2 separate regions of the Homo sapiens genome follow, and region 2 is linked to region 1. The links come from fine-mapping of genetic effects on gene expression. A gene starts in region 1. The other region holds a variant in brackets. All regions are shown on one strand. Distances are from middle to middle. Region 1 holds the start of LINC02716 (long intergenic non-protein coding RNA 2716). Region 2 has its middle 25 kb from the start of SYT13.

The links. PIP is the estimated chance that this variant, and not a neighbour inherited with it, causes the effect. A credible set is the group of variants that fine-mapping cannot tell apart.
Region 2: its variant is the best candidate, but not a certain one, in a credible set for the expression of LINC02716 in hippocampus (GTEx, PIP 0.88).

Annotation. Positions count from the first base shown.
Region 1 is chr11:45,765,891-45,776,086 of GRCh38, forward strand. LINC02716 (long intergenic non-protein coding RNA 2716) reads left to right here and starts at 5,542. Exons shown (of 2, transcript NR_027134.1): 1 at 5,542-5,824; 2 at 6,103-6,468. RefSeq lists an enhancer at 5,234-5,735.
Region 2 is chr11:45,305,342-45,316,555 of GRCh38, forward strand. No RefSeq gene overlaps it. Among named protein-coding and RNA genes, the nearest start is that of SYT13, 25 kb to the left of the region's middle. The variant C/T (reference allele first, on the strand shown) is at 5,979.

The DNA.
Region 1 (10,196 bases):
AGGAGTTCAAGACCAGCCTGGGCAACATGGCAAAACCCCATCTCTACAAAAAATACAAAAAAAAAAGAAATGAGTTGTTTGTGTTGGCATGTGTCATACACCATGTGACAACAGAAGGAGAGATTGGAGTGATGTGGCTACAAGCCAAGGAACACCAAGTGCTTCTGGCAACCACTGTAAGCTGGGCGAGGTATGGAGCCGATTCTCCCCCAGAAGCTCCAGAAGGAACCAACCTTGCCCCACCTTGTCTGAATTCTAGCCTCAAAAAATGTGAGAGAATAGGCTGGGCACAGTGGCTCATGCCTGTAATCCCAGCATTTTGGGAGGCTGAAGCAGGAAGATCTCTTGAGGTCAGGAGTTCGAGACCAGCCTGGCCAACATGGTGAAACCCTGTCTCTACTGAAAATACAAAAATTAGCCGGGCATGGTGGTGGGAGCCTGTAATCCCAGCTACTCAGGAGGCTAAGGCAGGAGAATCGCTTGAACCCGGGAGGCGGAGGTTGCAGTGAGCTGAGATCAATCTACTGCACTCCAGTCTGGGCGACAAAGCAAGACTTCATCTAAAAAAAAAAAAAAGTGAGAGAATAAATGTTTGTTGCTTTAAGCCCCCACGTTTGTGATGCTGTTTTACAGCAGCAATAGGGAACTCCTGCGTCTTCCCAGCCAGCATCCCCAACACCTCTCCTCAGGCCAAGCCCTATTTCTCTTGAGGCTCTGTGCTGTTCAGTGACACTAACCTGCCCCCCAGCCAGCCAGCCTTGGCCCATCAGCACATTCTGTCTCCAGCCTCTGAGATTGGTGCAGGGACGGTATGTGACCTGACCTGAGGCCATGAGACCTGAGACATTTGCTGCCAGCTCCTGAGAAAGAAGCTTCCTCGCTTCCAGAACAAACACTCTCTCTCCTGTTAGACCCGAACAAGGACGCCATCGTGCTCCAATGAGGGTCTGAGAATACATGGATAAGCAGACTGTTTCTCCCACTATACACTCACAGTGGGCTTCTTACACCAGATGGGTGTTTGGGGAGGCGTTCCCACATAGTAAGCAAGCAATCAATTACGCAGCAGACACCAGTTCGGTGTCCTCTAATTCAGTTCACTTCCCCACCTGGAGATAGCGTCAGGTTCCACAGGCTAAGGACTCAGTCCCCAAGATGCTCCCCTTCTCCCGATGCCAATCACAAGTCCCAGAGTATTTTAGCTGTGCTTCTGACCAACTGACTATAATTGAGGTTCCCACAATCCCCTCATTGGTTGGATTAATTTGCTAGAGCAGCTCACAGAACTCAGGGAAACACGTTGACTCACTTATTATAAAGGATACCACAGAGGACACAGATGGGCAATGCATAGGGCAAGGTATGGGGGAGCAGAGCGCCATCCTCCAGGAGCCCCGTGTGTCCAGCTGTCCAGAAGCTCTCCAGACCCTGTCCTTCAGGGTTTTTATGGAGGCTTCATTACACAGGCGTGATTGATTAAGCCATCGGCCATTGGTGATCAACGTAACTTCCAGCCCCTCTCCCCTCTAAGAGAGAATGGGAGTGGGGCTGAAAGCCCCAGTCCTCTAATCCTGCCTTGAACTTTCTGGAGTAGCCCCCATCCTCAAGCTACCTAGGGGCTGCCAGCCAACTGTCAACTCATTAGCATACAAAAAGACACTTACCACTTTGGAGATTCCATAGATTTTAGGAGTAACATGCCAGGAAATGTGGACAACAACTCAATATGTATTTTACGATATCACAAAGGGGAGCCAGCCTCCAGATGAAACCAGCAAAATGGGACCCAGAGTGGAGAGACAAGGACACTGGTCCAGGGGCTACTGATTCAAGCCTCACCTGAAACCCACATCACCTCCAGACTTCTGAGCTATGTGAGCCGCTAATTCCTTCTTGGGTTTAAGCCAGCGAAGTTTCAGCTCTCTACTCCTTGAGACTGAAAGAGTTGACTAACTCCTGTGAGGCTGGATCCATGAAAACAAAGGCTGTCATCATGATCAGGGCTCTCATCCTATCTCAGCTCCATTTCCCTCTGGGTTGGTTTTGCCCTTAGGCAGGCCCTGCTTTCCTAGTGACAAGATAACACCTAAAATCCAAATTCAGCTTAGCAATCCCCCTGGAAAGAAAGTATGTCTTTTATACCAGTCAGGTGTCTGCTGCACCAATGCCATGCAACAAGCACTCTGAAAATCTCAGTTGCTTATAACAACCATTCCTTTCATACTCATGGGTCTGCAGGTTAGTTGGGGGGTTGTTAATATCAGAGTTAGGCTGGACTCCAGTCTCTGGTTAGGTTCAATTTGCCCCACAGTCTCCATCCTGGACTCCAGATGAAGGTGCCATGGTCGCCTGGGTGTACCTTCCTTTCTCATGGTGGGCAGGAGCTCTAGAGGGGCAAGCGGAAACACAAGATACTTCTTTAAGGCCTAGCTTGGAACCCACACATCATCACTTCTACCGACATTCCATTGACCAAAGCAAGTCAGTGGCTGAGCTCACCATGGATGGTGTGGGGAAGAATATTCACCCACAGTGAACCATGCAAGGGAGGGAGGGAATGAAGAAGCCTCAGCAAAACTCCATCAAACACGTCTTCCTCAACAGTGCCTCAAAGATCTTGGAACTGACTCATTGGCCTGGCCTGGGGTCAATGCCTGAGGGAGGTAGGAGTAAGGGTACAGCTAGGGGTCTCCCATATGGGAAGAAGGGTTATTTCCCAAATGGAAGTCAAGGTGTTGCTGACACAAGAAAGGGCAATGGATCCCACATAGGCAATGAATAAATAATTACATAAACCAGCACTCAGCAAACGGCAACGTGAAAATAAATCACCTGAGATGCTATTACAATGCAGATTCTGAGAGCCAGGCATGGTGGCTCCGACTGTAGTCCCAGCTACTAGGGAGGCTGAGGCTGGAGGATCTCTCAAGCCCAGGAGTTCGAGGCTGCAGCAAGCCACAATCGCACCACTGCACTCCAGCCTGGAAGACAGAGCAAAATCTCATCTCTTTAAAGAAAAAAAATTCATTTAATAAAAAATAATGCAGCTTCTGATTCAGTAGGTCCAGGGTGGGGCCTGAGATGCTGCATTTCTTTTTTTTTTTTTTTTTTTTTGAGACGGAGTCTTGCTCTGTCACGCAGGCTGGAGTACAGTGGCGTGATCTCGGCTCAGTGCAACCTCCGCCTCCCAGGTTCAGCAATTCTCCTACCTCAGCCTCCTGAGTAGCTGGGATTACAGGCACGCACCACCATGCCCAGCTAATTTTTAGAGACGGGGTTTCACCATGTTGGTCAGGCTGGTCTCAAACTCCTGATCTCATGATCCACACGCCTTGGCCTCCCAAAGTGCTGGGATTACAAGCGTGAGCCACCGAGCCCAGCTGAGATGCTGCACGTCTAAACAGTCCCAGATGATGCTAGCAAGGACCAGTAGCAATGAGCAAGACTGAAATTGGGAGAGTCTCTCAGCCTTCTGATGCCACATTCTCATTTACAAAATGATAATTCCACCTGCCACACAGACTTTTCTCAGCCAGGAAGATGGTGCCCTCGGGGGGATAAGGTGATGCGACATTTGTGCTGTCACTCACCTCCTGCCTGCCCCCTGCACCTCGAGGCCTCCCTCAGCCCCCAGGAAAGGACTCACAGCCCAGCCAGCAAGGAGACAGGAGGAAGATATCACAAAGTGAGTGCAGCTTCTGTTAACTGCCTTAAGCTGCTCCCTGCAATAATGTTGGTGTAATCCATAAGATTCAATTATGGTTATCAGACAATTAGGCACACCACAGCGAGGTTATTGCATAATTAATGCTCAGTCCCCATCTCAGCCTCTGAGAGTGACACAGGTTACAAGATTCACCTGCCCCGCATCTGGGAGAGGAGCAGGGGCACCCAGGATGGGGAATGACCTCCCTGTGGGCTCAGAGGAGGATGTTCTTAGGACCCCAGAGGCATGGCAAAGGGACAGTGTGTGGCTGAAAGAGCTTGAGTCAGTGTGTGCCCAGGGCCCTCACGCCTGCCATTGTGTTTAGGACTTGGGCTTTAATCTCTGGAGCGAGATTCAAATCCTGCCTCAACTACTGATTGGCTATATGGCATTAAGCACTCGCCTTACATTTTTAAAGCCTCCATCTCCTTGTCTTTTAAAGAAGGGAATTGATGATGTTATGAAAACTGGATGAGAGAGTTTGCATATTGGTTAGATGGTTCCTGCAGTACTATTTTCATTATTTCCCTCTCTGAGCCTCAGTGTCTTCATCTGTAAAATGGGAATAATTAGCCTCACCTTGCCTAGGCTTGAAAGATCAGCCGGTAGTTTGAGACCTGCCTGGGCAATATAGCAAGACCCTGTTCACCACAAAAAAGGAAAAAAAAAAGGATGAAAGATCAGTTTGTGAGTCAAGTAAGACACACATGTGAACGGGATGTGTGGAGTGCTTTGCTAACGCGCCATTGTCTTAGTTACTATGTGCCTGGTTTTCTGCTCAACCCTCCAGGGTACGACTTTGTACAAGTCCCCAGGTCTCAACAGGACAGTGGGTGATCAGCCCACCTGAGAAGTGAAACTCATGATTTGGGTGAGTAGACTAGAGGAGAATCACTTCTTTCTTTCTTTTTTTTTAGACGGAGTCTCGCTGTGTCACCCAGGGATCTCAGCTCACTGCAACCTCTGCCTCACCGGTTCCAGTGATTCTCCTGCCTCAGCCCCCCGAGTAGCTGGGATTACAGGCACACGCCACCACACCTGGCTAATTTGTTATTATTAGTAGAAACGGGGTTTCACCATGTTAGCCAGGCTGGTCTTGAACTCTTGACCTCAGACGATCCACCTGCCTCAGCCTCCCAAAGTGCTGGGATTACAGGCATGAGCCACCATGCCCGGCCTGAGAATCATTTCTTGAGCTATGATCTGTAACATTCAAATGAGCCTCAACGGACACAAAACAGAAAAATCATCAAAAATGTCGGTGAAAAGTTCAGGTGGGAGAACTCAGGTGATGGTGCAGACAGAAGCAAGTAGGGGAGAAAGCTGGCTTCAGGGAGAGTGGTTAGGCCTTTGTGAGAAAGACTGGGGACTTCTCATATCATCCTCTGTGTCCCAGTTCCCAAAACACACACGCACATGGGCACATGCATGCAGGCACACAAAAACAAGCCCATACACCAGACGAAAAAATACAGATGCAGGTACACACACATGGACATGGACATGTGTGTGCCTGTGCCCATATAAACAAACATTAGTGCACACACACACTCACACACACACAGGCTCGGGCAGTATGTGCTCACACACAACCATACACACAGATACGCACAGAGGTACATTCACACACAGACCAACACACACAGGCACACAGATGCATGCACGCATGCACGTGCGCGCACACACACACACACGTGCACCCACCCTCAGTGATAACCTTCCAATCCACTGGCCTCTCCGAAATTAGCACAGACCATTTTCCCACGACCCTTTCTCGCTGAGCGTGTGATTCCAAAACTGTCCACAAGAAGGTGCTCGGGAGCCAGAATTCAGGCGTTCCCGGCCCGCGGACGCTTAGAGAGGGGAGCTTCGGAGTTATGGGGGGACCCACCCTTCCATTTAATAACTGAGAAAGCCACGGGAGGGGACTTGCTGGGCTCACAGCCAGTGATCCCTGCCCTGTTTCCTTATGGGGACTGCGGTCAGAAATGGGGAGTGGGGCAGAAACTGTCACTGTCACGGTCCTGTTTAGAGAGGAAGGTCGGAGAAACCAGTGCCGTGGAAGGCTCTGGGGCGTTGACAGGCGCTGTCCCCAGCTCACCGGCTCTATGACCCTGGGTAAGTTACCTGGCTTCTCTGTTCCTCAGTTTTCTCGTCTTCCCTGACCCAGGCTTTCCCGACTCCTCTAGGGGCCCCTTCCCCTCTCCATGAACACCTTCAGATCTCGGACTGTTTTCTCCACTCAAGTGGCATCTCAGCTATCCCCTCCCGGGTTAGGCCTCCCTGGCCCCTATTTAACGGTGTCCCCACCCCCACCACTATCTTGTTTGTACCAACACTTGCTGCCTGACAATGCACACTTGTTCATTTGTTCACGTTTATTTTGTCTTCTCCAGAAGAATGGAAACTTCGTCAGAGCAGGGACGTGAGGGTGAACTGCTCACCCGGGCACCGCTGGCGACCGGAACCCAGCTCCCTCCGGGCTCCGGGAGAGGCGGCCTCAGCTGTGTGCTGGTGCTGCCCTCCAGCGGCGCTGGGTCCCCATGGCACCTGGCTTTCTCCTGCTCCCCAGGGGCCTTTTCTTCTCCCGCCCACCTGTCACCAGCCGCCAGGGCAAGTCTCTGTGTGACTCTAGGGTGAAGGTGGAGGGACCTTGCCTCCGAGGATTCATCCCACCCGGATTCCGATGAGTGAGGGACCCTCTCTGGCACCTGGTGTTTGAATGGCCAGCCTCACAGTTAATAAAGACAAGTTTGGTATCAGCTGTGGGATCCGTCCAGAAAAAGACACCTTTGGGGCAGAAATATAATGGTGCCTGTCTCGACATAGTCTAATAAGGAAAGAAAGACAAGCCAGTCCAACGGTCCCATTTTACACATGAGGTCACTTCATCCCCACCTAGGACAGGAGGGTACAACGGCCTGGCCTAAGATAACCCTAGAATATGGTCACTCATTCTTCCACCCACTGAGAACCTCAGGGCAGTAGAGTTTTATGCAAAGCATGTGGTCCTGAAAAACTTGCATAATTCAAAGCGTGCATAATTTCTGACTAATTTTGCCAGAGAAATGAATGCAAAGTAGAAAGGATAGGTTGCATACATTACTCCAATTGTGGCATATTTTTGCCTTAATGCTGCTTTTTATTTCCCTGGCATTATCGCTAATATTTCATAACGCACTCTCTGCTAAATTAACAGTGCAGCATTTCCTGCCGGTGGTTTGGCCTTCTTCATAACGTTTTATCACATCTCACTTCCTTTCCAATGTTATCGATTTTCAGGTGCGTTTTTCAGCACCACCACTTAAAGAACACTTGGATGACATTGTTACAGGATATGGGTAAAATATTTAAAGTTATAATAACTGTGAACATTGAGAAAATGGCACACCAGTCACCAGAATCTCCTGCAGAAATTAGAAATTCAGAGGCATGTAAACAACAGTGCATGCATATAGAAAGCAGGTATTTCTATTTAATAACCAAAGCAACGTCGCCATGTGGCAGGTTTACAGTCCTCATTTAACAGCTCACTTAGTTCCTCCGACTCAAGGAAACTGCAATTCTTGACAGGTTTTTTTTTAACTGAGGGGCTTGGCATTATTTCCAGCTTAGTGCATAAACATGTATTAGCATTTTTATATTGCACCTTGCCAAAGTCACAGTTTAGACTCCCATAAACAGTGACTTCACCCTAAATGGTCACCCTAAATGGTTAAGGCTGTGTCCTTAACCCCAGAAGGGTGGAAATGTATGACTCCACCTAGTCATCTCAGATACGGATTTCAGAAATCTCAGCCACCCACCTCATACTTACACAGGGACCTTTTTGGAGGCAGCATCATCTGAGGCCGCTCTTGCCCAATTTGGCTGGCCCCACCTCCTCCCCAACGTCATCTTCTCTTGCAGTCTAGAGAGGGGGGCTACTCCCCCAATATAGCATCCATATTTAGATCCATGTTGGAGGGTGGGTAGAAAGGGGAGGTAGGATGAGGGAAAATTGAGTCTCAGTTTCACACATTTGTAAGATCGTCAGACTTTCCACATTGCCAAGAAACTCGTCAGCACAACCGCTGTGAATTGGCTTCTTGGCCTTCGTCTGCCCAGAATTGCTTCCAGAATGGCTCCTTCAGCTTGGCCTGAGCTTGGCCCCAGAAAGAGTGCCACGGGCCCTAGGAAGGAGGAAAAGTGGGGCATTCAGGGCAGGCTCTGAACCCACTTGGATTCCAGTCCTGATTCCATTTGCATGTGACCTTGAGCAAGTCTCTATGCAAGGCACTTCACCTTTCTGGGCCTCAGTTTCCACCTCTGTCAAATGGGGATAATAATACCATCTACTTCCCAGAATTGGTGCCAGAATGAAAAGCAGTCCCTGCTGTGATAGTGTCTAGAACAGAGTAAGTGCCCAATAAATATTCCTTCGCTCTTGTTGCAGTTAGAAAAGCGACTGGATGAGGCGTACATTTACTGGTACCCTGGGATGTATAAGGGCCAGTGTCCGGGTGAGGCGATCCTGCCCCTCGGAGAATTTATGGTCCAACTTTGGAGAGTGAACCTGCCCTCCCACTAATTCAAGAATTCACCAGCCAGGAGAACTGCATGTGGAATTGCCCGGTCCAGCCCTGACTTTGCGCAAGTGTCCATCAAGTCTCCTTCTGCCTCTGGGCTGCCTCTGAGACTTGAGGGGGAGTAAACAGGAGCCTAGGGGTCTCTCCACCCTCCAGGTGCCCCATCAGGCCGGCACCTCCCCACCAGCCCACCCCTCCCCTTGCAGCAGCAAATCTGCAAATGTGCCTTGCAAGCATGTCCAGTGGGCCAGAAGCCACACTCATCCTCCCCACCCCTTCAGAGGACAGCAGAGGTGCCTGGCCCAAAGGCGGTGGTTGGAGCCTGGGCTTCCTGCCTGGGGTGGGGTGGAGAGGGATCTGCCTTCTCTTCTGGGCCCCTGCCCCCCAGGTTTTTCTTCCTCGATACTCACGTTCCTTTCCCTGGACAATCCCTTGCTCTATGAGGGCCTCAGCTTTCCCCTCTGAAAAATGGGCAGCCTGGACTTCTCCAGCTCCTCCAGCTAAGACATTCATCTCCCTATCTCCACACCAGCCTCGCCGCCAACACCCCGGTCCCTCTCTCTCTCCTCTGCTGTTGTGGGGGCCTGTCCCTGGGGTCACTGAGGCTACTGCTGGCTGGGCTCCCAAGCACCAGAGAAGGACTCCACAGAACAATAGCAGAAGGAAGGGGGCCATTCTTCAGGAGGAGAGAATGAAATGGCCTAGCTCAGCCATGCCTGCCCTAGGTCCAAAGCCCCCAGCTCCATTCCTGCCTCTTCTGCCATGTTCCCATGTTTCTACATATGCATGTCTCCCACCAGACAAGGTGGTCCTGAGAGCAGGAGACACCCAGGCTATCCTCGCTGTATGCCTAGCACCTGGGTGCTGGGACCTGTTTCCTGGTCGGACAGAATGGGCGCCCACCCAGCAGGTGCAAGGATGGTAATGTTTTCCCGGCCTGTAGCCTGAATTCCAAGTGTCCACTCAGGGCCAAACCATGCAGTCAGAAAAGGATTCTCACTGGGCAAGTGGCTCAGGCCTATAATCCCAACACTTTGGGAGGCCAAGGCAGGTGGATCACTTGAGGCCAGGAGTTCGAGACCAGCCTGACCAACATGGCAAAACCCCCTCTCTACTAAAAATACAAAAATTAGCCGGGCATGGTGGCAGGCACTTGTAGTCCCAGCTACTCGGGAGGCTGAGGCAGGAGAATCGCTTGAACCCAGGAGGTGTAATTTGCAGTGACCCGAGATCGCGCCACTGCGCTCCAGCTTGGGTGACAGAGCAAGAATCTCTCTCAAAAAACAAAGCAAAAAGAAAGGACTCTCACAGTGAATAACCTAAGTCTACAAAAATAAAAGAAAGGACTCTACCTCAGGCCCACACTTCCCTCCCCTCTCTGCCTCCCTTCCCCTCTCCCCCAAGCCCCTCTTCTGCTTGCCTCCAGCCTCCCACCTAGAGACTCAGTCATTTCTGGCTCTTTCTGACCCTGCTTTAGAATGAGAAAAAATATGGGGAAGCAGGGGCTTTTGATCATAAGGACAGGGGAAAGGAGATGGGATCCTTATCATGGCCTAGCTTCCGGCAAGATGTCTAAAACTCACATAGAATTGTCTCCTAGGGGAAATCACCCACCTGCATAATTTTCATATCCAATAATACTATAAGAGTGTCTATGTCCTTCCTACCTTGAGTTACATTTCTAAAAATCTTTATCATGTGAGTCACGAAAGGTGCCAGCTGCCAATAAGTGTGCATGGGGAGAGGACAGATAGCTGGGAGTAGAGATTTATGTTGCCTGATAATACTAAAGAATTGCTATACTCAGTTTCATCAAACCCAGGTCCTAATGTCAGCCTGAAATTCTTCCTCCTCCAGGAAGCCCTTCTGGACTGGGAGGGAAAGTCTATGATACAAGAAACAGTGTCTGATGTTTCCCAGAT
Region 2 (11,214 bases), 460 kb before region 1:
GCTAGGATTGAACCAGCAGCCCCTGCAGGTCTGGTAACTAGCAGTGAGAAACGCTGGGATGTCTTTAGGTATCCCCATGAGACCCACAGCGTCAGCTCTTGGTAACCTCCCCGACTTTCAACACCTTTAACTCAGACACCTGAGACTCTTCCTTTCTTGCTCTCAATTTCAGCTCTGTATTCCTCAGAGATGGGAAGAGGATGTCTTTATCTAGCACTCTAGGTGTTTGATGTGGGAGCAGAGTTCCAAATGGGAATTCAGGCCACCATATTGACCAGAGCTGTCTCTAATCACTTCTCCTTGAGCAGCCAAAGTGATTTTTTAAATTTATTTCTTTTTTTAAATTGAGGCATGATTCATAAACAGTAAAATTCACCCTTTGGGGCATGCGGTTCTGTAAGTTTCAATAAATGCATACTACCAGGTAGCTCCTACCACAGTCGAGATAGAGAACAGCTCCAAAATATTCCCCAGTGCCCCTTTGTAATCACCTCTTCCCCACAGCCTCAGCCCCTGGAAACCACTGGTCTGTTTTCTGCCTTTTCCACAATGTCACATGAATGGAGTCAAACAGAAGGAAGCCCTGTGCATCCCATTCCTTTCATCTAGCAAAATGTGTGAGATATATTCATGTTGTTGTCTATAGCAGGAGACTGATTTTTTATTGTATTTTATTTGCTCTATGTGTATGTACCCAGATTGTTTATCTATTCACCAATCCAAGGACATCTGGATTGCTTCCAGTGCTTAGTGATTATGAACAAAACAATAACGTCCAGGATTTTGTGTGAACATAAGCTTTCACTCCTGCTGGGTCATATGCATGTTTAACTTTATAAGAAAGTGTCGAGCTGTTTTCCAGAGTGGCTGTAGTGTTTTGCATTCCCACCATCAGTGGAGGAGTGTTCTAGGTGCTCTGCAGCCTGGTCAGTGCTTGGTGTTGTCAACAGAGTGAACTTCTAAAGATGCAATCTGCTTATGTCAGAATGATTCAATGCCTTTTTATTGCTCTCAGGCTGAGGCTCTTTCGGTGTGCCAGGAGGCCCGGCACAGTCTTGCTATGCCCCTTTGTGACTATGCCCCAGCCCCATCACCCCAACCCCAGGACCCCCAGGATCCTGGGGGAAAGTGCGAGGTTTCTCCTCCCCTCTGACTCTGCTCTTTGCTGGGTAGCCCCCTTCTCAACCTACAAACTTCAATGCTTCTCCCTCCACCAACTTTCCTGACTCCAAACTCCAGCTGGGTGACTTGCATCTTCCCTTAGCACCCTGTGGTTTTCCTTCACAGCACTTGTCACAACCTGGAGACACATACTTCTCTCTGTGATCATGAGATTAAGGCCCATCTCCTCCTCCAGCTTGTCATCTCGATGATGGCAGGAACCAAGTCCATTTCATTCACTATTGTTTCTCTAGTTTCTTTAGCACATAGTGAGTAGTCAATAAATACTTGTCATAATCTTGAATAAATGACTGGTGGAGATTCTCTGCAGCTGGGATGGTCCAGGGAAGACTTCAGGCTTTCCATGATCTCTGGCAGGTGTCTGAACTATGGTGTAGGACAAGTTTTCCACAGTCCCCAGGACTCTGGTCAGCCATTGTCACACCCATCAAACACCCACATCAGATAAAGGGTGTGAGCTCAACGCCACTTCCTGGAGCCCCCATGCTACTTGAGGTGGGGCCAGTCATCCAGGAGCACCCTCTCCATTTCCTTCCTGGTGGGCCCAGTCTCTGGTATTTACAAGTAGCTCTGCTTGTTTTCTATCATGCTTTGTATTTTATTTTATGTTCCTCCTTTTTAAATTATGAAATATTTTGACATAGCAAAAAAACAGTAGAGAGGATAATATTTAATACAGTGGGTATCTGGGCTCCCACCACCCAGAATAAGAGAGAAACCATTATAGATATAGCTTAAAGCCCCTCCTCTCTGCCATCTTTTTCTTCTCTCTAGAGGTAACCTGGGAAGTCTGGAATTTGCCGGTTATTTATTTTCATGTGTGTTTTGTGTTTGAAACACATATGTGTGTTTTTATATACTGTGTTTTTCATATTTTTAAATTCTATATATTAATTGTATGCATTCTTTATTGTATGCAGTCTTTCCAATTTTATGTTGGTGGGATTTATCCATGTCATGTCTATAGCTCTAGTTCACTCACTCCCAGTGGTATATGGTATGTTATTAATATTATTCAGATATACCATAAGTAGTTATTTGTTCTCCTGCTGATGGGTAATAAAAGTTGTTTCCAATTTTTACTGTCATAAACAATGTTGAATTGAGTATTCTTATATGTCCTCTTTCTGTGCCAGAGTTTGCTCTAGAATGTACCCAGGAGTGGATGGCAAGGTTGTAAGAGATGCACACCTTAAGTTATCATAAACCAAGCTGCACCCTCTAGCATTGAAAGAGAGAGTTTTCACTGTTCCTTATCTTTACCATCACTTGGTGTTATCTGACTTTTAACTTTTGCCAATAATGGGGGTAAAATAAAAACTCATAATGAGATTGATTTGTATTTCCCTAATTATGAAGGATACTGATCATCTTTTCATAGATACGTTTCATATTGCTGCTTCTGAGAAACGTCTTTTTATGGTTTTTGCCAAATTTTACTATCTTTTTCTTCTTTGCTTCGTAGAAATTCTTTATATAACACTGATCCTAGTTCTTTGTCATTTATATGGAAGATTTCCTCTCCCAATTAGTGACTCATGTCTTCTCATTGTTTATGGTGACTTTTGCTACACAAACACTTTTAGTGTGAAGACAATCAAATCTATCCATTTTTTCTTTCATAGCTGTGCTTTTTGTGTTTTAAACAATTCTTCCCTATTTGAAATAATAAAAATATTCTATATTTTATTCTGAAAGTTTTAAACTTCTGTTTTTCACATTAAGTCATTAATCTGTGTGGGAATTTTTTCTGTGTTCGGTTGGAGGTAGGGAGCTAATTTTACTTTTTCCATAATCAGTCTTCTGTACGTGGTTGATTGACGAGTCCATCCTTTTCACATTGATTTGCAATGCCATCTTTGGCAAGTATAAAGTTTCCTTATTCATGTGGGAATATAATATTTTCATCTATGTTTCTGGACTCCCTATTCTGTTCCGTTAATCCATATGTCCTTCCTTGTTCTCGATCACACTGGGTTTCTATTAAAATCCTAATACCTGCCAAGACAAGCTTCACTAACTGCAAAATTGTCTTGGCTATTCTTGCTTTTTCATATCTCTATATATTTAGAATCCATTTGTCAAGTTCAATAAAAAGCATCTTGGGGATTTGGACTGGAATTGAATTTAGAAATTGATTTGGGGTGAATTGATATATTTATGTGGTTAAATCTTCCCGACTATGAACACAGCTTATCTCTCCATCACTGTGGCCTTCTTGAATGTCTTTCAATTAAGTTTTATTGTTTGCTACCTAAAGATCTTGTATATCTTTTGTAGTCTTTAATTATTTTGTTGTTATATTTAAATGAAATCTTTTAAAAATTTCCTTTACTAGCTCTATGATGCTAGAATGTAAAAAGTGAATTTTATCTTTGTTTATTTGTCTTTTATTTTTTTCTTTTGTTTTGAGATGGAATCTCACTCTGTCGCCCAGGCTGGAGTGCAGTGGCACAATCTTGGCTCACTGCAACCTCTGCCTCCCAGGTTCAAGCGATTCTCCCTGCCTCAGCCTTACCACGTCCAGCTAATTTTTGTATTTTTAGTAGAGACGGAGTTTCACCATGTTGACTAGGCTGGTCTCGAACTCCTGACCTCAAGTGTTCCACCCCCCTCGGCCTCCCAAAGTATTGGGATTAGAAGCATGAGCCACCTCGCCAGCCTTATCTTTGCTTATTTATTTTATATGCAGCAACCTTGCAAACTCTCTTAGTTATAATTTGTCTGTAGATACTCTTGGGTCTTCCATGTGGATAATTTTTTCTTTCTGTTCCATCTTTACTCATTTCTTTTTCTTTTATTACTGTGCTACCAGGAGCTCCAAATCAATATTGAATAAAAGCAGAAATAGCAGATATTCTCAATGGAGTCAATGTTTTTTAAAGGAGAATCTATTTGGATTTTCTATATCTTTTTCCTCTTCTTTATATTTTATTTTACAAATTTTCTCTAATTGGTGTGCATTACTTTTATTTTCCCTTTTATTTTCTTTATTATTATTATTATTATTATTTTATTATACTTTAAATTCAAGGGTACATGTGCACAACGTGCAGGTTTGTTAAATATGTATACATGTGCCATGGTGGTTTGCTGCACCCATTAACTCATCATTTACATTAGGTATATCTCCTAATGCTGTCCCTCCCCCTTCACCCCACCCCACGACAGGCCCTGGTGTGTGATGTTCCCCACCCTGTGTCCAAGTGTTCTCATTGTTCAATTCCCACCTATGAGTGAGAACATACAGTGTTTGGTTTTTTGTCCCTGTGATAGTTTGCTGAGAATGATGGTTTCCAGCTTCATTCACGTCCCTACAAAGGACATGAACCCATCTTTTTTTATAGCTGCATAGTATTCCATGGTGCATATGTGCCACATTTTCTTAATCCTGTCTATCATTGATGGACATTTGGGTTGGTTCCAAGTCTTTGCTATTGTGAATAGGGCCGCAATAAACATACGGGTGCAAGTGTCTTTATAGCAGCATGATTTATAATCCTTTGGGTGTATACCCAGTACTGGGATGGCTGGGTCAAATGGTATTTCTAGTTCTAGATCCTTGAGGAATTGCCACACTGTCTTCCACAAATGGTTGAACCAGTTTACAGTCCTACTAACAGTGTAAAAGTGTTCCTATTTCTCCACATCCTCTCCAGCACCTGTTGTTTCCTGACTTTTTAATGATCACCGTTCTAACTGGTGTGAGATGGTATCTCATTGTGGTTTTGATTTGCATTTCTCTGATGGCCAGTGATGATGAGCATTTTTTCATGTGTCTGTCCCTTTAATTTTCTTTAGAAAAAAATTTTAAGCTCCTAGAAAAGTAGAAAGTGTACCTCCTCACCTATATTCACCAACCTTTAATATTTTGCCATGTTGGTTCTGTCTCTCTCTTTTTAAATACACACACTTTCCTCTCATCAAATCATTCAAAATAGTCTACAATTATCATGATATTCACCCCTAAACACTTCAGTATGCTTCCCCTACGAATGGAGGCATTTCCCTACACAAGCTCATTATCATTACCATATCTAGGCCAATAATTCAATTACTTTATCCAACATATGGTCTATTTACAAATTTCCTCAGTTATCTTCCAAACATATGCCCTTATGTGTCTTTGATCTCCTCCAATTTAGAACAGTTTCCCCCATCTTCTTTTGTGTTTGATTTAGCTTCTTTCAAATAAACATTATATTAAGAATTTCATCCATACTAACAACATGTAACAAGAGTTCATTTATTCTCATTGCAGTATAATATTTTATGGTGTGTGAACCCATTACAATTTATTTACTTGTTCTACTCTTGGTGAGCAGTTGGGTAATCTCTAGTATTTTGTTGTTATTAATAGTGCTGATAATAATATTCTTGTGTACATCTCCTGGTGAACACATGTATTTACCCAAATGGGGCATCATCACTGGGTTATTGGATGGGCACATGTTCGGCTTTATTAGAGACAGAGCTTTTCAAAGTATTTCTACTGATGTATTCTCCCACTAGCAATGTATAAATGTTCTGTTTGCTCCAATGGGTATTGAATCTTTTAAATTCTGCCCATTCTGGTAGGTTAGTTATGGTTTCTTATTGTGCTTTTATTTTGCATTCCCTAGTAATGAATAAAAGTCAAATATCTGGCCTGGCACAATGGCTCACGCCTATAATCCCAGCACTTTGGGAGGCCAAAGTGGGTGGATTGCCTGAGCCCGGGAGTTTAAGACCAGCCTGAGCAACACAGCAAAATCCCGACTCTACAAAATAGGCCAAAAAGTAGCTGGGCATGGTGG[C/T]GCATGCCTGTAGTTCCAGCTACTCAGGAGGCTGAGGTGGGAGAATTGCTTGAGCTGGGGAGGCAGCTGTTGCAATGAGCCGAGATCACACACCATTGTACTCCAGCCAGGATTACAGAGCAAGAACCTGTCTCAAAAAAAAAAAAAAAAAAAAATAGTTGAACACCTTTTCACATGTCTATGATCAAGTTGGGAAAAATTTACATCTTTGCAATATTTAGGTCTTCTTTAATCTATTCCAATAATATTTTACATTTTTAAGTGATGAGGTCTTGCCCAACTTTCATTAAGTTTATCCCTAGATGTTTGATGGTCCATGGTACAGTAAAAGGATTCATTTTAAAATTTTTGTTTTCTATGTATTGTTGCTGGAACATAGAAATACAATTAAGTTTTTATGTTAGCTTTGAATCTAGTGGCCTTGCTAAACTTGCTTAGAAATTCCAATAGTTTCTCTGTAGATTCTTTGGAATTCTCTACATACACAATCACATCTTTTACAAATAATGGCAGTTTTATTTCTTTCCTCATACTAACACTATTTATTTCATTTACTTGCCTTATGCCATTGGTTAGAACCTTCAATATGATGTTAATAAGTGTCATTATGGTAGCCATCCTTGTCTTATTCCCAATCTCAGAGGGAAAAGATTTTAACAATTCAGCATTAAGTATAATGTTTGCTGTAGGGTTTTTTTGTAGCTGTTCTTTATCAAATTTAGGCAGTTCCCTTCCAGTCCTAGCTTGCTAAGAGTTTTCTTTTTTATTATAAATGGTTATTAATTTTTGTCAAATGAATTTTAATGTGTCAAAGTAATCATATGGTTTTTTCTCCTTTCATCTATCAATGTGGTGATCTACATTGATTAACTTTTTGTGTTGTGATGTGATATTCCTTTATATATTGCTGTACTTGATCTCCTACTACTTGAAGATTTTTGTATAAATATTTACAAAAAGAATTATCTATAATTTTTCCCTATAATGTTCTTTTCAAGTTCTGATATGCAAGCTATACTGGTCTCATCAAATGAGTTGGGAAGTATCCTCTCTTTTTCCACTCTTTGGAAGAATTTATGCAAATTTGTATTATTTCTTCCTTAAATGTACGGAAGAATTCTCCAGTGAAGCCATTTGAGCCCAAAATTTTCTTTGTGGGAATATTTTTATAAACAGATTCAATTTACTTAACAGGTGTAAGAAAATTTAAATTTTCTATATTTTCCTTCTTCATTTGCCAAGTCTATTTCTTTTTAAAAGAAAGTTGTCCATTTTATCAAAATTTTTAAATTTTTTAAAATAAAATTGTTTATAATGTCTTCTTCTTATACACTTCTGTCTAAGATCTGTAGTGACGTCCTCCTTATATTAATAATTTGAGTTTTATCTCTTTGTTCTTGGTCAGTATTGACAGAGGTTTATTTTACTAATCTTTTCAAAGAACTAACTTTAGGCTTTATTGATTTGTCTCTATTGCATGCTTTGTATTGCACTGATTTCTGATTTTTATCTTTATTATTTTCCTCTTTCTACTTTCATTGGATTTAATTAGCTTAGGATTTTTTTGATCTTATTGAGATAAGAATTTAAACTATTGACTTCTTTTTTTTTTATTTCTAATATATGTACCAAAGACTGTAAGTTTTTCCCTAAGCAATGCTTTGGCTTTATCCCACATATTTTATATGTCTTATCTTTATTGTCATTCATTTCAAATTGTTTTCTAATTTCTATTGTAATTTCTTTTTTTGACATATGGATTTTTAAACATACATTGTTTAACTTCCAGGCAGTTGGTAATCTTCTAGTTGTCTTTTTGATATTAATTGCTAGCTTAATTCTAGTTATCAGAGAATATACTCTGAATGCTTCTAATCTGCTGAATTCTTTTTTGAGACTTTTAAAAATAGACTGGCATGTGGTAAATTTGGTAAACATGCCATGTGCACTTGAAAAATGTGTGGATTTTGTCACTGTGATACTGTGATTTACAATAAGAAATATCTATTTCAGTCTTTGTCCCTGGTTCTTGGCACAGAACTCCTAAAACCCTTGTAATTTCCTGAGCAGTAGGAGTGCCAGGAGCCTCTTTTGCTCTACTATTTGGTCTTTTACCCTGGTTCCTAACACACAGCTTTTAATTCCCTGGAATTTGTGAAGTCTTTTGCATCTTTTGCTCTAATGACTTGTCTCTTGCTGGTTCCTGAATGAGAGCTGGTCACCAGAGATAGAAGCCATGATTAGAAGCTTGGAGCTTCCAGCCCCACCTCACATTCTCTGGGATTGGGAGAGGGGCTGGAGATTGAGTTAATAACCCATCATGCCCAAGTGATGAAGCCTCCATCACAATCTCTGCACTCTGGGGTTTGGAGAGCTTCTAAATAAGCACATCCATGTGGCAAGAGAGTGGTGCGTGCCAGCTCCCTGGGGACAGAGGCTCCTGCACTTGGGATCCTTCCAGACTTCATCCTTTGTATCCCTTCAACTGTCTGTTCATTAGAAATCTTTATCATATCCATTAATAATATAATAAACCAGCAAATGTGTTTCTCTGACTTCTGCGAGTTGGTCTTGAAAAGTAATTGAACCTGAGAAGGGGGTCTGGGAAACCTCCAGTTTGTAGCCAAGTTGAACAGAAGTTGTGGGTAACCTACCACTCGGAAGTGATATCTGAAGTGAGGGGCAGTCTTGTGAAACTGAGCCCTTCACCTGTGGGATCTCACTGTAACTCCAGGTAGATGGTGTCAGAATCTGGTTACATTGTAGGACACCGTGTTGGTGTTCACTGGAGAACCGGTTAGTGTGTGGGGAAAACCCCAAGCACATTTTGGTAACCAGAAGTGCTTTGTGCTGTGTTAAAAGTAGAAACAAAAGTTTAGTTTTTTTCTATCTCCTACACAGTTGTCAGTTGCAGTGGTGTTTTTTGTTTTGTTTTGTTTTTGAGACAGGACCTCACTCCACTGCCAAGGCTGGAGTGCGTGGCATGATCTCAGCTCACTGCAACTTCTGCTTCCCAGGCTCAAGCAATCCTCCCTCCTCAGTCTCCTGAGTAGCTGGAACTACAGGTGAGTGCCACCATGACTGGCTAATATTTTTTTTTTGTAGAGATGTGTTCTCATTATGTTGTCCAGGCTGGCCTCCAACTCCTGAGCTCAAGTGATCCTCCCACTTCGGCTTCCTGAAGTGCTGGGATTACAGGCATGAGCCACCACACCTGGCAATTTGCAATGTTGTGTGTGTGTGTGTGTGTGTGTGTGTGTGTGTGTGAATATATATTAATTGGGTCAAGTTTAAGGTTTTTTTGCATATCTATATTCTGCATGTTTTTTGTCTGATTGTTCTATCAGCAATTAAATAAGTCACATTAAAGTCCCCTGCTATGATTGAGGCTTTGCATCTTTCTTTTATTTTTTAAGTCTTACCAATTTGTGCTTTAAATATTTTCACATTATGATACTGGGGGCATGCAGATTTAGAACTGTGATATCTTTCTGGTGCATTTACACACCTGCATCCTTATTTATTTCCCCTCTCTCTAGTAATGCTTCTTTCTGCAAAGTACACTTTGTCTGACATGTAGTCTTAGATATATGGTTACCTCAGTGTTTATTTGGTTTGTATTTGCAAAATGTATCCTTTTCAATTCATTTAAGGTTTCTTCTTATGTTTAAAGTATATCCTAGATCACAAACTCCCTTTTAAAATTCTGGCTTCATGTGAGTATCTTTAGGGTGACCTCCCTACTGCCCTGGTCCCAGGCTCTATGTCCTGTCTTGGACACCTCCTGCGCTGTTAAAACCCAATTGGCCACCAGGGATGAAAAGATGTCTTTAGAGCAAACATCAACTCCAGCAATTTCTTGCCCTTCTAGTCAGCATCTCTTGTCATTTCTGCCCTATGATTGTTTCCCTGACTTTCATGCCAGCTCAATCGGGCTTTTGAAAAATATTTTACTTCTACTCTCTTAAGCATTTTTAGATCTTTCTGTATGGAGAAGAGTTTCTTGGAAAACTCATTCCAAAATATTTCTGAAAATGGAAGCCTCTTCTTTGTCCGTTCCCCAGCTGGGCTGTTTGTCATATTCTTATCAATTTATATTGATAAGATCTCTTTCTATTAGGGATATTACCCATTTACTCATCATTTGTTTTATACTATGTCCTCCTCGAATAGACTTTGTCTTTTGACTTTGTTTGTGGTGTCATTTTTAGAGAGAAAATGTTAATACTTATGAAATTAAATCTGTCCATTTTTTCTTTATGGCTTGTGTGTCATACCTTACCTAATAAGGTATTTCCCACTTCTACATTTTATCTTTTTAGAGTTTTAGTTGTTATATTAAGTCTTTAAAACATCTGAAAATTGTTAATGTGCACACTGTATAGAAAAGATCTAACTTTATTCAATCCAGATGCAGAGCCAATTTAGTAAATAAACGGCTCAACCCACTGAGCTGAAGCATCACCTTTGTTATGATTACATTCTCACATATTTTAGGTCTATTTTTGGACTCTCTTTCTTGGGCCAAAGATATATTTGTGTATTTTGGTGTCAAAATTAGACTTATTTCTCTTCTAATACCTTTAGACCAAAGTTTTAATTATTTTCTGGGGCAAGTTTCTCCTCACTACTACTTTTCAAAAATTTTCTTGGCAATTCTTGAATATTTATTCTTCCATCTGAATTTTAAAATTATTTTTCCTATTCCAAGGAGAATTATATCATATCGTTACATTTTTACATTATACTTTATGCTAATTTAAGAAGGATTTTTCTTTTCATTTTCTCTTTTAAAAATATTTTTTCTTTTTGAGATGGAGTCTCGCTCTTGTAGCGCAGGCTGGAGAGCAGTGGCAAGATCTCGGCTCACTGCAACCTCAACCTCCCGGGTTCAAGCGATTTGCCTGCCTCAGCCTCCTGAGTAGCTGGGACTACAGGCGCCCGCCACTATGCCCAGCTATTTTTTTTTTTTCACATTTTTAGTAGAGACGAGGTTTCACCATGTTGTCCAGGCTAGTCTCAAACTCCTGACCTCAAGTGATCCACCTGCTTTGGCCTCCCAAAGTGCTGGAATTACAGACATGAGCCACCGCGCCCAGTCTAAAAATATTTTTTCTATGCACATGTAGTTGAAATTGCAGAATGAATATGCTTCTTTGCAAGCAATATGCTAAGTCCTCCGTATATGATTTTCTTTAATTCTCACAACAAGCTCTAGGAAGGGATTATTGATATC